3 separate regions of the Homo sapiens genome follow, and regions 2 and 3 are each reported to be linked to region 1. Evidence: microRNA targets listed by miRTarBase, many of them from high-throughput screens and not tested one by one. Region 1 holds a microRNA gene; each other region holds the end of a gene's coding sequence.
The links. The annotated mature microRNA hsa-miR-548at-5p reads AAAAGUUAUUGCGGUUUUGGCU and lies in region 1 at 1,697-1,718, shown strand. An mRNA with a match to its seed (bases 2 to 7 or 8) in the 3' UTR can be bound and repressed. Matches are read on the target gene's strand: a 7mer-m8 pairs with bases 2 to 8, a 7mer-A1 pairs with bases 2 to 7 and ends in A, and an 8mer does both.

Region 2: the mRNA of RNF6 is a reported target of hsa-miR-548at-5p. Seed matches in the 3' UTR shown: 7mer-m8 at 3,269-3,275 and 7mer-m8 at 2,878-2,884.
Region 3: the mRNA of UCP1 is a reported target of hsa-miR-548at-5p. Seed matches in the 3' UTR shown: 7mer-m8 at 808-814 and 7mer-A1 at 940-946.

Annotation. Positions count from the first base shown.
Region 1 is chr17:42,493,077-42,497,076 of GRCh38, forward strand. MIR548AT (microRNA 548at) reads left to right here and starts at 1,697; the gene lies at 1,697-1,754. ATP6V0A1 (ATPase H+ transporting V0 subunit a1) reads left to right here. Exons shown (of 22, transcript NM_001130021.3): 12 at 1,258-1,397; 13 at 1,958-2,112; 14 at 2,550-2,640.
Region 2 is chr13:26,210,141-26,214,209 of GRCh38, forward strand. RNF6 (ring finger protein 6) reads right to left here. Exons shown (of 5, transcript NM_005977.4): 5 at 2,635-4,069. The coding sequence ends at 3,684. Among named protein-coding and RNA genes, the nearest start is that of RNF6, 10 kb to the right of the region's middle.
Region 3 is chr4:140,556,467-140,560,535 of GRCh38, reverse strand. UCP1 (uncoupling protein 1) reads left to right here. Exons shown (of 6, transcript NM_021833.5): 6 at 526-1,105. The coding sequence ends at 640. Among named protein-coding and RNA genes, the nearest start is that of UCP1, 10 kb to the left of the region's middle.

The DNA of each region.
Region 1 (4,000 bases):
GACTTCTCTAGCAAATCATTTGCAGGAACTGTTTTAAGCAAAATGTTTCTTCTAAGATGTCTGATATTTTTAAATGGCTTTTTTTTTGGCTTCCCTGTTCCAAGGTTAGACAGAAAAAATGTAGCAAGTATTGGCCACTTTAGGTACAACACAGATTTCTCCTATATTTGGAGAGTTAATTATTAAATCAAGAGTGTGAGTATTCATTTTCAGTTGGAGCCCTATGGAAGAACTGCTTTGCTCTGGGCTCTCTCCATCTGTACGTTATCTGATATTTAGCTTTATATCACTGGGACATGGTTGCTGCACAAAGAGAAGACAGCTGGCCTGCCCTGGGAGCAGGGTCCCACGAGTTACAAGAGAGTCAGAGAACAAACCAATGTTGTCAAGGTTACACCTTCATTTCCACTGTTCTTTGTTTGAAATGTTATCAGAGCTGCCAGGCACAGTGCCTCATGCCTGTAATCTCGGATATTCAGGAGGCTGAGGTGGGAGGATTGCTCAAGGCCACAAGTTCAGGACTAGCTTGGGCAAAATAGTGAGATTCCATCTAAAAAAATATTATTTATCAGTAATTTTAAAACAAAATTAACTGGGCATGGTGGCACATACTTGTAGTTCCAACTGTTTGGGAGGCTGAGGTGGGAGGATAACTTGAGTCCAGGGGTTGCAGGCTGCAGTGAGCTGTGATGAAACCACTGCACTCCAGCCTGGGTGGCAGAGAAAGACCCCATCTCTCTTTTAAAAAAAGTTATCAGTAGCTCAAATTTCATTAGCTACTTTGTGAAGATGTGTTGATTCTGCCATGAAAGATTTTCTCTGAGAGTCCTATCTGTCTGGCAGCTGGGGAGTAAGTCACCTTATATTGATCTTAAGATTATGGAAGCCTGGGCACGGTGGCTCACGCCTGTAATGCCAGCACTTTGGGAGGCCGAGGCAGGTGGATCACTTGAGGTCAGAGTCGGAGACCAGCCTGGGCAACATGGTGAAACCCTGTCTCTACTAAAAATACAAAACTTAGCTAGGCATGGTGGTGGGCACCTGTAATCCCAGCTACTCAAGAGGCTGAGGCAGGAGAATCACTTGAACCTGGGAGATGGAGGTTGCAGTGAGCCAAGATTGAGACATTGCTGGCTGACAGAGCAAGACTCCATCTCAAAAAAAAAAAGGGGGGTGGGTATGGAAAAGAATGTAATATTTGTGGAATTGCTATGGTTTAATGTACTTTGTATTTTTCTTTTTTTGGTTTCTTCATAGCTCCGTATACTATTATCACGTTCCCTTTTCTATTTGCTGTGATGTTTGGAGACTTCGGTCATGGCATTTTAATGACCCTTTTTGCTGTGTGGATGGTACTGAGGGAGAGCCGGATCCTTTCCCAGAAGAATGAGAATGAGGTAATGTTTAAGTTACATCTGCATTGAACTGAAATTTTATAATTTCCCAAGCATTCATTATGAAAATTATGATCTGGAAGTCTTTTATCCATGAATTTATCAAAAGGAAGTAGAGAAGTTATGTTCATTTTAACACCAAAGACGACATGTGCAAGCTGGAAGTGGTAGTGTGTGCCTGTAGTCCCAGCTACTTGGAGGCTGAGGCAGGAGAATCACTTGAGCCCAGGAATTCGAGACCAGCATAGGCAACATAGTGAGACCCCATCTCTAAAAAAATAAAAATTATTTAGGTTTGGTGCAAAAGTTATTGCGGTTTTGGCTGCCAAAAGAAATGGCCAAAACCGCAGTAACTTTTGTGCCAACCTAATAAAAAAATAGAGGCCACATCCTGTGAAAGTGACTGTCTCATTAGCATTGTATTTTGGTTTTTACTTCAAGCTCTCTGAATCAGGATGGGGTAAAGTAGTGCTGGAGAAAGGGGCAGGTATATTCTGAATAACATTGTCACAATGTGAGCTGCAGTGAGTACATTCTCATTACTTCTTTCTTCTGGTTCCCAGATGTTTAGCACTGTGTTCAGTGGTCGATACATTATTTTATTGATGGGTGTGTTCTCCATGTACACTGGCCTCATCTACAATGATTGCTTTTCCAAGTCTCTTAATATCTTTGGGTCATCCTGGAGTGTACGGCCGATGTTTACTTATAATTGGACGTAAGTTGCAGAAGAAGCTAAAATTCAAAGCTTATTCCTTTCATGTGCAGCCCTGATTTTTAAGACAAGTGGTAAACTGACACTTCTTTAGGAAGTGGTGACAGTGTCTCCTCATTCATGCTCCACACTGTGAGTTGCTTTGTGATTTGTTCAGCAAGTATCCAGGAACTAAGATTAGAAATGATTTTTTTTTTTTTTGGAAACTAAAACCAGATTCCCCAGTTCCCTACTTGATTGTGTGTTTGTGTGTTTAATTTTTCTTTTTGTCATTTTGGATCCCTCAGTCTCAGCTGCTAGTCTCTCCTCTTTATTTTTCCCCTCCCATTTTATTGAAGAGACAAGATAGCTACAGTAATTTATTTTGGGGTCAGTTTCTGGACCCTTGTTGTTTCCCTCTCTTGTTCAAAAATAATGTGACTTTTTCCCTGTCATGGTAGTGAAGAGACGCTTCGGGGGAACCCTGTTCTACAGCTGAACCCAGCCCTCCCTGGAGTGTTTGGTGGACCATACCCTTTTGGCATTGATCCAGTAAGAGGACTTCCTTCCTATATGCTAACCTCAAATTTTTTAACACTAACCCTGAAGCAAGAGAATTAAAATGAAGATAAATAGTTATGTGGGCTTTCACTGGGCATGGTCGCTCATGCCTGTAATCCCAGCACTTTGGGAGGCCGAGGAGGTGGGATCACCTGAGGTCAGCATGGTGAAACCCTATCTCTACTAAAAATAAAATATTAGCCGGGCGTGGTGGCGCATGCCTGTAGTCCCAGCTACCCGGGAGACTGAGGCAGGAGAATCGCTTGAACCTGGGAGGCAGAGGTTGCAGTGAGCAAGCTGCACTCCAGCCTGTGTGACAGAGCAAGACTCCGTCTCAAAAAAAAAAAAAAAAAAAAGAAAGAAAGAAAGAAACAAACAAAAATAGTTATGTGGGTTTTCGTTGACATATTTTTGGGAAACCTTGATGTATGTATTCAGAGGACTTCTAAGCCATAAGAGACCCAAGTGCCTTGAGGAGCCACATACTTTTCCCTGCGCTGCTTATTTCTGAGGTGGTTAATAATATCGACTCTGGGAAGATTGATTTTTCAAGACTCCTTCCCATTTCTTAATTTATTTCTGCTTACTTAGTTTGGTTTTTTATTTTTAGCAGACATTTTAGCAAAGCAGAAATATATTTTTCCTGTGGATTTTAGACTTGCATTCTTATATTTACGAACTTACAAAAACTTATCCGAGAATTAATTTTTTTTTCAAATGCTTAGGCAAATTAAGTATGATCAAGTCTTCTTTATTGTGTGCTGTAAAAATGGAGTGGCGGCAAGAATGTAATACAGGGCATCTGACTGCTGAGGAAAAAAAAAAATAATACAGGCTGGGCGAGGTGGCTCATGCCTGTAATCCCAGCACTTTGGGACACAGAGTCAGGTGGATCACTTGAGGTCAGGAGTTCGAGACCAGCCTGGTCAACATGGTGAAACCCCATCTCTACTAAAAATACAGAAATTAGCTGGGCACGGTGGCATATGCCTGTAGTCCCAGCTACAGGAGGCTGTGGAAGAATTGCTTGCGCCCGGGAGGAGGAGGTTGCAGTGAGCCCAGATCGTGCCACTGCACTCCAGCCTGGGGGACATAGCAAGACTCCATCTCAAAAAAATAGATGGAATGACAGCACCACAGGGCTACAATCAGCGAAACATAGACTGTGGGAAAATATATAAGATAAACAACCCAATTTCTTCAAAAGAAATTTTGTAATGAATGAAAAAGGAAAGATGGAAGGAGAACCTGTAGTTTAGAGACTCAAGAGATATATCTACAATCATAATGTATAAGCCAGGCACGGTGGCTCACGCCTGTAATCCCAGCACTTTGGGAGGCCGAGGCAGAC
Region 2 (4,069 bases), not on the chromosome of region 1:
AGATGAATCTGGCTTCCTGGGAAATCATCTCCTAATACAGATACGCCAGCTCTCTGATTTCCAGTGTTGCACAGGACTGAATGAGAGACCCCAAGTGAGCCACCTACTACTGCAAAGTGAATTAACACCCTGGCTTTCATGTAAAGTGCTGTTTCTAGTTTCTCCTCCCCTGGCCACAGATTATTCCAATGGAGAGATGCAGGAAGATTAAAAGTTCATTAGATGTTCTTGTCTGGGAGTAATATACATGAAAATGCCTCAGACTGAGCTTGTCAACTCTGGCCCTTAATGCAGCATCTTCAGATGCCTCATTCATCTCTTTCCTGGATTCATCTTTATAATACAGATTCTGTTATATCTTTTAGGGGCAACTCTTCTCCTCCATTCATGAGACAGAAGGATGTATTTGCCTATGGAAATTAGGGTAATCAGACATATGATAGAACAAAGTTGTAAAATTAGAAAAATATCTTTAGGAGGAATTAAATTAGACTGAAAACTTCCCAAGGCATTTCCACTTCTCCAGAATGCAGCATAGCAGGAAAAGCAGGAGCTTTGGAGGCAAATAGCCACGTGATTGACTCCCTAAACTCTGCCAATTACTAAGTTAGGTAGCAAAAATACTTCAAGGAGAGCTTCAGAGGTTTAAATTATGAATTCATGTTAAATATTGAAAGGAAAATAACCTCGTAAGAGTGATAATTAAGTAAGGGTCATAATGCTGGCTGAAACTAAAAAAATCTAGGAAAAGAGAAAACAGGGTAAAAGGCTGTAACTATGTGAGAGGGCAGCTGGAAGCTGGCAATCTAGAAATAGAAGTTTGCCAGACAGCCACACTATAAAGAACAAGCTCTACGGACCTGACATGGAACATAATATTCAAATGAAGAATTTCTAACTATTTGTTCTTCTCTATATTGGAACCACAAAGGGTATAATCATTGCTAAATAGAAGCTATAAATAGATTAATGGGCCTTTGTATTTGTCATCAGCCTTGTTTATTGGGAAATGAATGAAAATATTAAAGAATATCCTTTTTTATTCCCAACTGGGTTATCAATTTATGAAATTCATTAAGCTGTACTGCTGCCTTCAGGGAATTTTCCATACAAAACACAATCTACTTCTGTTTCAAATGCCTATATGGGATTTCTTTCCATGCTAGTAACATTATCATGTCTTGCAAAGGACTAAGTCAAAGAATCAATATGCCTTTATTTTTTCTGTATCCTTACTTTTTTCATTCCCCTCTTCCTTTGTCCTCCTAATTTTCCTATTGCATCAGGCCCAGGGAGGTAGAACTTCCTGAGGAATATCCCATATAAGAAATAAACGGGCCAGGCATGGTGGCTCATGCCTATAATCCCAGCACTTTGGGAGGCCAAGGTGGGCGGATCATGAGGTGAGGAGTTCCAGACTAGCCTGGCCAACATGGTGAAACCCTGTCTCTACTAAAAATACAGAAAATTCGCCGGGCGTGGTGGCGCATGTCTGTAATCCCTGCTACTCCGGAGGCTGAGGCAGGAGAATTGCTTGAACCTGTGAGGCGGAGGTTGCAGCGAGCCGAGATAGTGCCACTGCACTCAAGCCTGGGCAACAGAGTGAGACTCTGTCTCAATAAAAATAAAAATAAAAATAAAAATGCTGGATTTAGTCTCTCCTCATACTGGGGGCAAATTTTAACACTAAAATAAGTGAGATGTATGAATTAAGCTATGTTCAAGATGTTTAAATTGGCATACCTTGTAACTAATTTGTGCTACCTCTCCCTCCTCCACCTAGGTGATTCTCTCTTCCACCTCTTCATACTGAACTAGAGACCAAACAACGTCTTTTTTTAAAAACCAACATTTTTACACCCTTCTCTTTCCTTTCAGTTTCATTGCCACCATTCTAGGGTAGATAAGTGATGACAACTGGTAATAAAAATAATGATGTCTTTTATCACAATAGTTCTCTTATTGGTTTCTTTGCTTCCCATCTCTCTCCATTCCATTGTGTTCTATATGCTGTAGTAGACCCATCCTCCTGGGCCATGAAAAATGATCCTACCCTATGCCACTAAAATCAAGAGACATCTAACATCTCTATAAGGTAAGATAAAAAGTCCTTAGTTTGCTATGAAAAGCCTTCAAATCTGATTGAAATCAACCTTCCCAGTCTTAGATCCTCAAACTGACCTACATAAATAATTTACTCCAAACAAAGTCACAACTTTTATGAAAACCTTTTACTCCATGTAAATGCACTCCTTAACATTCCTGGGCATGCATCTAACCTAATGAATTGAACATAGTCACCAGTCAGAAAGGAAAATTAAATGTGGAGATATTTCTAAATCTCACAGAATCTGGCCTAAGTACTGTTCTTGTGATTTTGCCCAAACAGTATCACCACAAGAAAATCCTGTCATATATTAATAAGCAAATATGAAAGTAAGAATAATAATTCACTTTATCAATTGATATTCAGTTTCTAAGAGCAAATATGTCTTTTCCATGAAGCCAGGGACTTTTGTCTGTCGTCTGGGAAATACTCTATCCCATAACACTGCCTGGCATCTAGTATGAAATATTAGTGGAGGGTGAATAAACCACAGTGGAACAACAGAAAAACATAGTTCACATACAGTCTTTGTTTTAATGTTTATTGGTAGAAACAGATCTTCAATGCATACTTTGTGTTTATATAAACTCTACATTCTCTTAAAGGTTTTCGTTTTGTTTTCACTGGAGATTTTTAGCCTCCAAGTGAACTTAACATATTGCCTATGCATCTGATTCTTTATAGACTTTTAGATTTTAAAACTAAATTTGAGAAACCATGCATACTGTATACCTTATTTAATAATCCAAAGAATTGTTTGCACTTTCAAAAAAGTTACAAAAAGGCTGAACACAAGTTAAATAACCTATATGATGTAAATTTTCCATTTCTGAATACTTTTTCAGTATTATATATTGCTTGCTGTCTAATAAGTTAGATTGTCAGAGACGCTTCAGTAAATTATCTCTACTTTAAAATTATATCTGAATCCCCTTTCTCTGAGATGAACTTGCCAATATTAAACATTGTGCCATATGCAGTATTAGCCCAAAAGCTTAAATAAGAACCAAACTTGTAGACTGAATATTTTAACCTTAAAATTATATACCTATATATACACCTATGGTATGCTGCATATTAAATTTAACATTTCAAGTAACATATATATAGCAAACATTCAGCCAAATACTCTTTCATGAAAAGATACTGTCCTTAAAATAAAAAGTTAATGAAAAGCTTATTTAGACACAAATGTCTAGATATAAGTACTAAGCCTATGAAACTTGAAGCTAAAGTCTGCTGTACTATTAAGAAAAAGAAGATTGATTCTTAACCTACTGAATTGTGCAGATACAAAAGTGCTTAGCATGACAAAATTACCAAAATAAAAACATTTTAGAGGTTATTTGGTTCTAGCAATATTAACTATTCTGTATTTCTGGATAATTTAACATTTGTATTTTAAATTTTATATAAATTTCTTTTTAACAAGTTTAAAAAAGCACACGAAAAATAGTTCAAACTATATATAATCTGTTATTTTTCATCCTGGTTAGCTAATCACAAATAACTCAGCAAAACAATGCTTGAACATTCAGTTCTACTAAAAAACAGTATTTGAGTAGATCCCATCACCTTACCCATTGTTTGCTATGTTAGACCCTAAAACAGGCTGCCGACAGATCGGACAAGTGCAATTCTCTGAGAGCCATCGGTCAATACAATGAATGTGAAATTCATGCATGCAAGGTAATTGCCTGAGCTTGTTTCCAGTTACATAGTCACTAATACAAACACTACAGATTTTACCTAGTTCACTATCAATACTGTTATGCTCATAGTGCCTGGTGGAAAGATTGTCAATCTGCTCTTTGGTTAAACCACGTATTCGATCATCATCATCACTTTCATTTAGTAAAAAAAAGTGAGCAAGGCGAAGAATGGGTAGTGTTCCAGTTTCAACTAAATTGTTTGGATTTCGCAACTGCCTGCCACCCCTACTGTCACTGTTTCGAGTATGAG
Region 3 (4,069 bases), not on the chromosome of region 1:
TTCTAATAGTTTCCTACCTCCCATTCAGAAAGCAAAGCAAAACAAGCAAAAATTCCCCCTTCCCTCAAAAAAGGAAAGAGTTTTTGAAAAAGTTCATGTCAGTGAAGAAAAGACATGTTTTGGGAGTGAAGGATATTTGTGGATTTGTATAGATGTGATCATCAGGGCTGTGTTGTTTTGAAGTAATATAGGACATCTAGAGGAAAATTTATTTTCAGCAGAGGAGGGAAAGATGAAGAGTAGGTACTTTTAAGCATCTTCACTTGAGGAGTGGCAAAATGAGAAGCATAACCTGCTATAATCACTTTAAGAATTTCAGGCTGAGTGTGGTGGTGCAGTCTCTAGTCCCAGTTACTCCAGGAGGCTCAGGTGGGAGGATCACTTAAGCCCAGGAGCTCGAGGTTGCAGTGAGCTATGATTACACTACTGCATTCCAGCCTGGGCGGCAGGGTGAAGCCTCATCTCAAAAATTAAAAAAAAAAAAAATCAAACAAATTAATCGAACGATGACATGCACTTTTCTAGGTTGGTACCTTCCTTCTTGCGACTTGGATCCTGGAACGTCATTATGTTTGTGTGCTTTGAACAACTGAAACGAGAACTGTCAAAGTCAAGGCAGACTATGGACTGTGCCACATAATCAGCTTCAAGAAAATGATGTAACATACCAGTGGGAATCTTGCTGACTGGATCATAAAAACAAACAAAACTTATTCACTTATTTTAACCTAAAAAGATAAAGGAATTTTGGCAGAGAATTTTGGACTTTTTTATATAAAAAAGAGGAAAATTAATGCCTATTTCATATAACTTTTTTTTTTTCTCAGTGTCTTAAGAAGGGGAAAGCAAAACATTCAGCATATACCCTGGCAAATGTAATGCAGATAAGCTACTGCATTTGACCATTTCTGGAGTGCAATTGTGTGAATGAATGTGAAGAACTTTAACATGTTTTAATTACAATTCCAACTGGTGGAAAAGAAACTGAGTGAAATGCAGTTTATATTTATAAATACTTAAAAATGAAGTTATTAAAAATATTAGTTTTTATTAACCACAGTTGTCAGTTAATATATTCAATAAAGTATTGCTAATACCTTTTAAAGTTTGTCTTTTGAGATCTATACCTGGGTGTAAGAGTCAAGTTCACTAGAATACAAGACTGCCCAATAGCAAATGCAGGTCTTTAGAATCATAGGCATGAACCTACTCTGAATGTTATTAGTATAGATTTTTAATGTTTAGAGTCCAGATTTGATGACATCTCTAACAACTTCTAATCTAAGACACTATATTCATTTTGGCAGGATTGCTACTAGAGTCTTGGTATCTGTGCTAGCATCACATAATTTTAGAGCTGGAGGGTACTTCTGGGAAGACAGAGGAACAGTTTGAGATTCCTACTGAGATGAAAACGAATCTTCATGGAATCTTTCAGCAAAGCCAAATTCAAATTCATCATTAGCACCTGTAGTAACCTTTTCAATGCCTACAAACTGCATGCAGAAGAGATAGGGAAACAGTAAAACAGATATTAAAAGAAGTTTTTAAGACAAAGCCCAGCCTGATTTTAAGCTAAATCCAAGGATTGGCAGCTTGGATGAGCAGGAAGGTTACAGGCTGCCAGACATCATTCTAGTTCTGTTTTAATCAACTCCATGTTACATTTACTATCAGGGATTCTCACCTCACCCTCATGCATGTCTTCCCCATTCATTACCCGCAAAAGTGTCTTGTAGCAGATGTCTTCTGTGTCCCATACATACCATTTTGCTCTTTAGTGCTTGCTGGCCTGACTTCCTATTGTCATGTCAGCATCTGCCCTTTTTAGGGTCTCTGGCCACCAGAGCCAGCTTTACTCACCTGTGCATGGCATTCTAGAAGAGCAGCAGGGAAAATAACACAGCCCCAGTGCAGCCCTTAACCACCAATAACTGGTAGTAGTTGGTGTACAAATATCTCAGTTCCCTCAACTGTCAGGTGGAATACCGCTGAGGGATCAAACTCTAGTAACACACAGTAGTGTTTTGCTTACTATGGTTAACTAAAAAATCACAGGGTCTTCATGCATTTGGAAAGGATACTTTATTTCTTACAAAGGGTTACAGCCTACAAGGTGGTCATTCTGCAGGCTAGAAAGCGTAACCTCCAGCAAAGACCGGAGGCAGGCACTTCTAGGGAAGGAAGAGTAAGACAGAAATTTAAATTGAATGGGTTGGCCAAGTATACATATTCAACAGGCTACAGGTGGATTCATGAATATTCATGAAGGCAGTCCTGATGCATGCATGTTACACCTTGGGGTGGAGGCTTAACATTTAAATGTATTACAGTTAGGCCCTATACATGAAAAGGTGAAGCAGTAACACGAAGGCACACAATGCACCATTTCTGTAAACAGGCCAGAGCCAGTTCACAGTGGTTGGTCTCTTATCATGAGAAAGCTACTAAAATCCTCTTGTCCAGTTAAAACTGTAGTTATGGCTGGTGGAAAATGGGCTGGAGTCAGTCAACACTTGGTGAAGCTGCAGTTGCTTCAGACACTCAAGGCCAGTGTTTGTTTAGCTGCTCGAGAAAAAGAAAAATCTTGTGGCAGTTAGAACATAGTTTATTCTTTAAGTGTAGGAGTGTGTGACTTAATCCTGCCTGGCATGTCCTTAGATCCTGTTTATAATTTGGCATCTTATAGCTCACAAGTGATATGAATGTGTACACAGAAAATCCAAAAGAATTGGCATACATAATAAGAGTTTGGCAAAGTGGCTAATAAAATCAATATTTAAAAGACTAGATACCTAGATTTCTACATACCAGCAAAAGGAAGTTAGAAAATAAAGCTGTAAAAATGTGTAACAGCATTTTAAAATAGTACCTGGGAATAAATATAACAAAAGATGTGTCATATCACTATGGAGAAGACTACATTGCTACAAAGAATATTGCCACAAAGTGTCTGTTCCATCAGTCTGTGATCTCTATTTTAACATTCATGCTGGTCAGTTGCGTCTAAGCCATCCAACGGAGGGAGTATAACAAAGCATGTCTGACCTTCCATTCTATCATGGCCAGGAATTCAGTTTTGAGGGTTTCTCTGGGGTCCCCTTGACCAAGAGGAGGTCCTTTAGTCAGTGGGAAGCTTTAGGATTTTATTTTTAGTTTACAACGTTTGTGGGCTGACTTCTATTCCCTGTCTCAGTTCCCTACTCCTTTACCAGTGTTTCCTGGGATCACCTCCCAAATGAATTGCAAATCCTTTCCTCACGGTCTGATTCACAGAGAATTCAAACTAGGACAAATCACAACCTTCAAATAGCATGTTTCTTTCAAGAATAAGGAAGAAAACATATAACTTTATTTCTTTGCATGGGACCCTGGTCAGGCAACGGGCAGTTGCAAATGGAGGGAAGCAAGTTGGCCAATTCCTGGTACAGAGAAATGTCAGTCATCAGAAGATATTTGAGGATCTGCTATGCTCTAGACACTGTGCATACTACACAGTGGTACATAAAGCAAGCATAGGCTCTGCCCCCATACAGAAGGAAATATAAGGGAATCAATCTGGTATCAGATGGTACCTGGGGATTTACCAAGTGCTTTGATAACAGCCTAAGTGAGCTCATCTGATAGGGACACAACTGTCGGGGGAAAGCCCCTACAGGCCTAAGAATCACCACAAAGTTTTTCTTTTTCATGCAAAGTAAGTGGCAATAACCACAATCTGTTCCTTGTTTAACAAGGCAAGCCGTTACTTGAAACAAGGTAAGATATAAAGTCTACAAATCATTCTTGCTTCTTTTTGTCTTCATTTGTTAAAATTGGAAAATTTTCATTGTGGAATATAACCCACATACATGAAAGTGCATAAAGCAAATGAATATTTTAATGTATTATTACAAAGTGAACTAACAGGTAACCAAAGTGGAGCTCAAGAAACAGAAAATTGCAAGCACTGCAGAACCACCTCCACCCACGGGATCACAACTTGAGACCATCTTAACTTCGCTTTCATGGTAAATGGTTTTCCGCGTGTTTTTATATGGATTCACTATTTAAGTATACATCCCTAAAT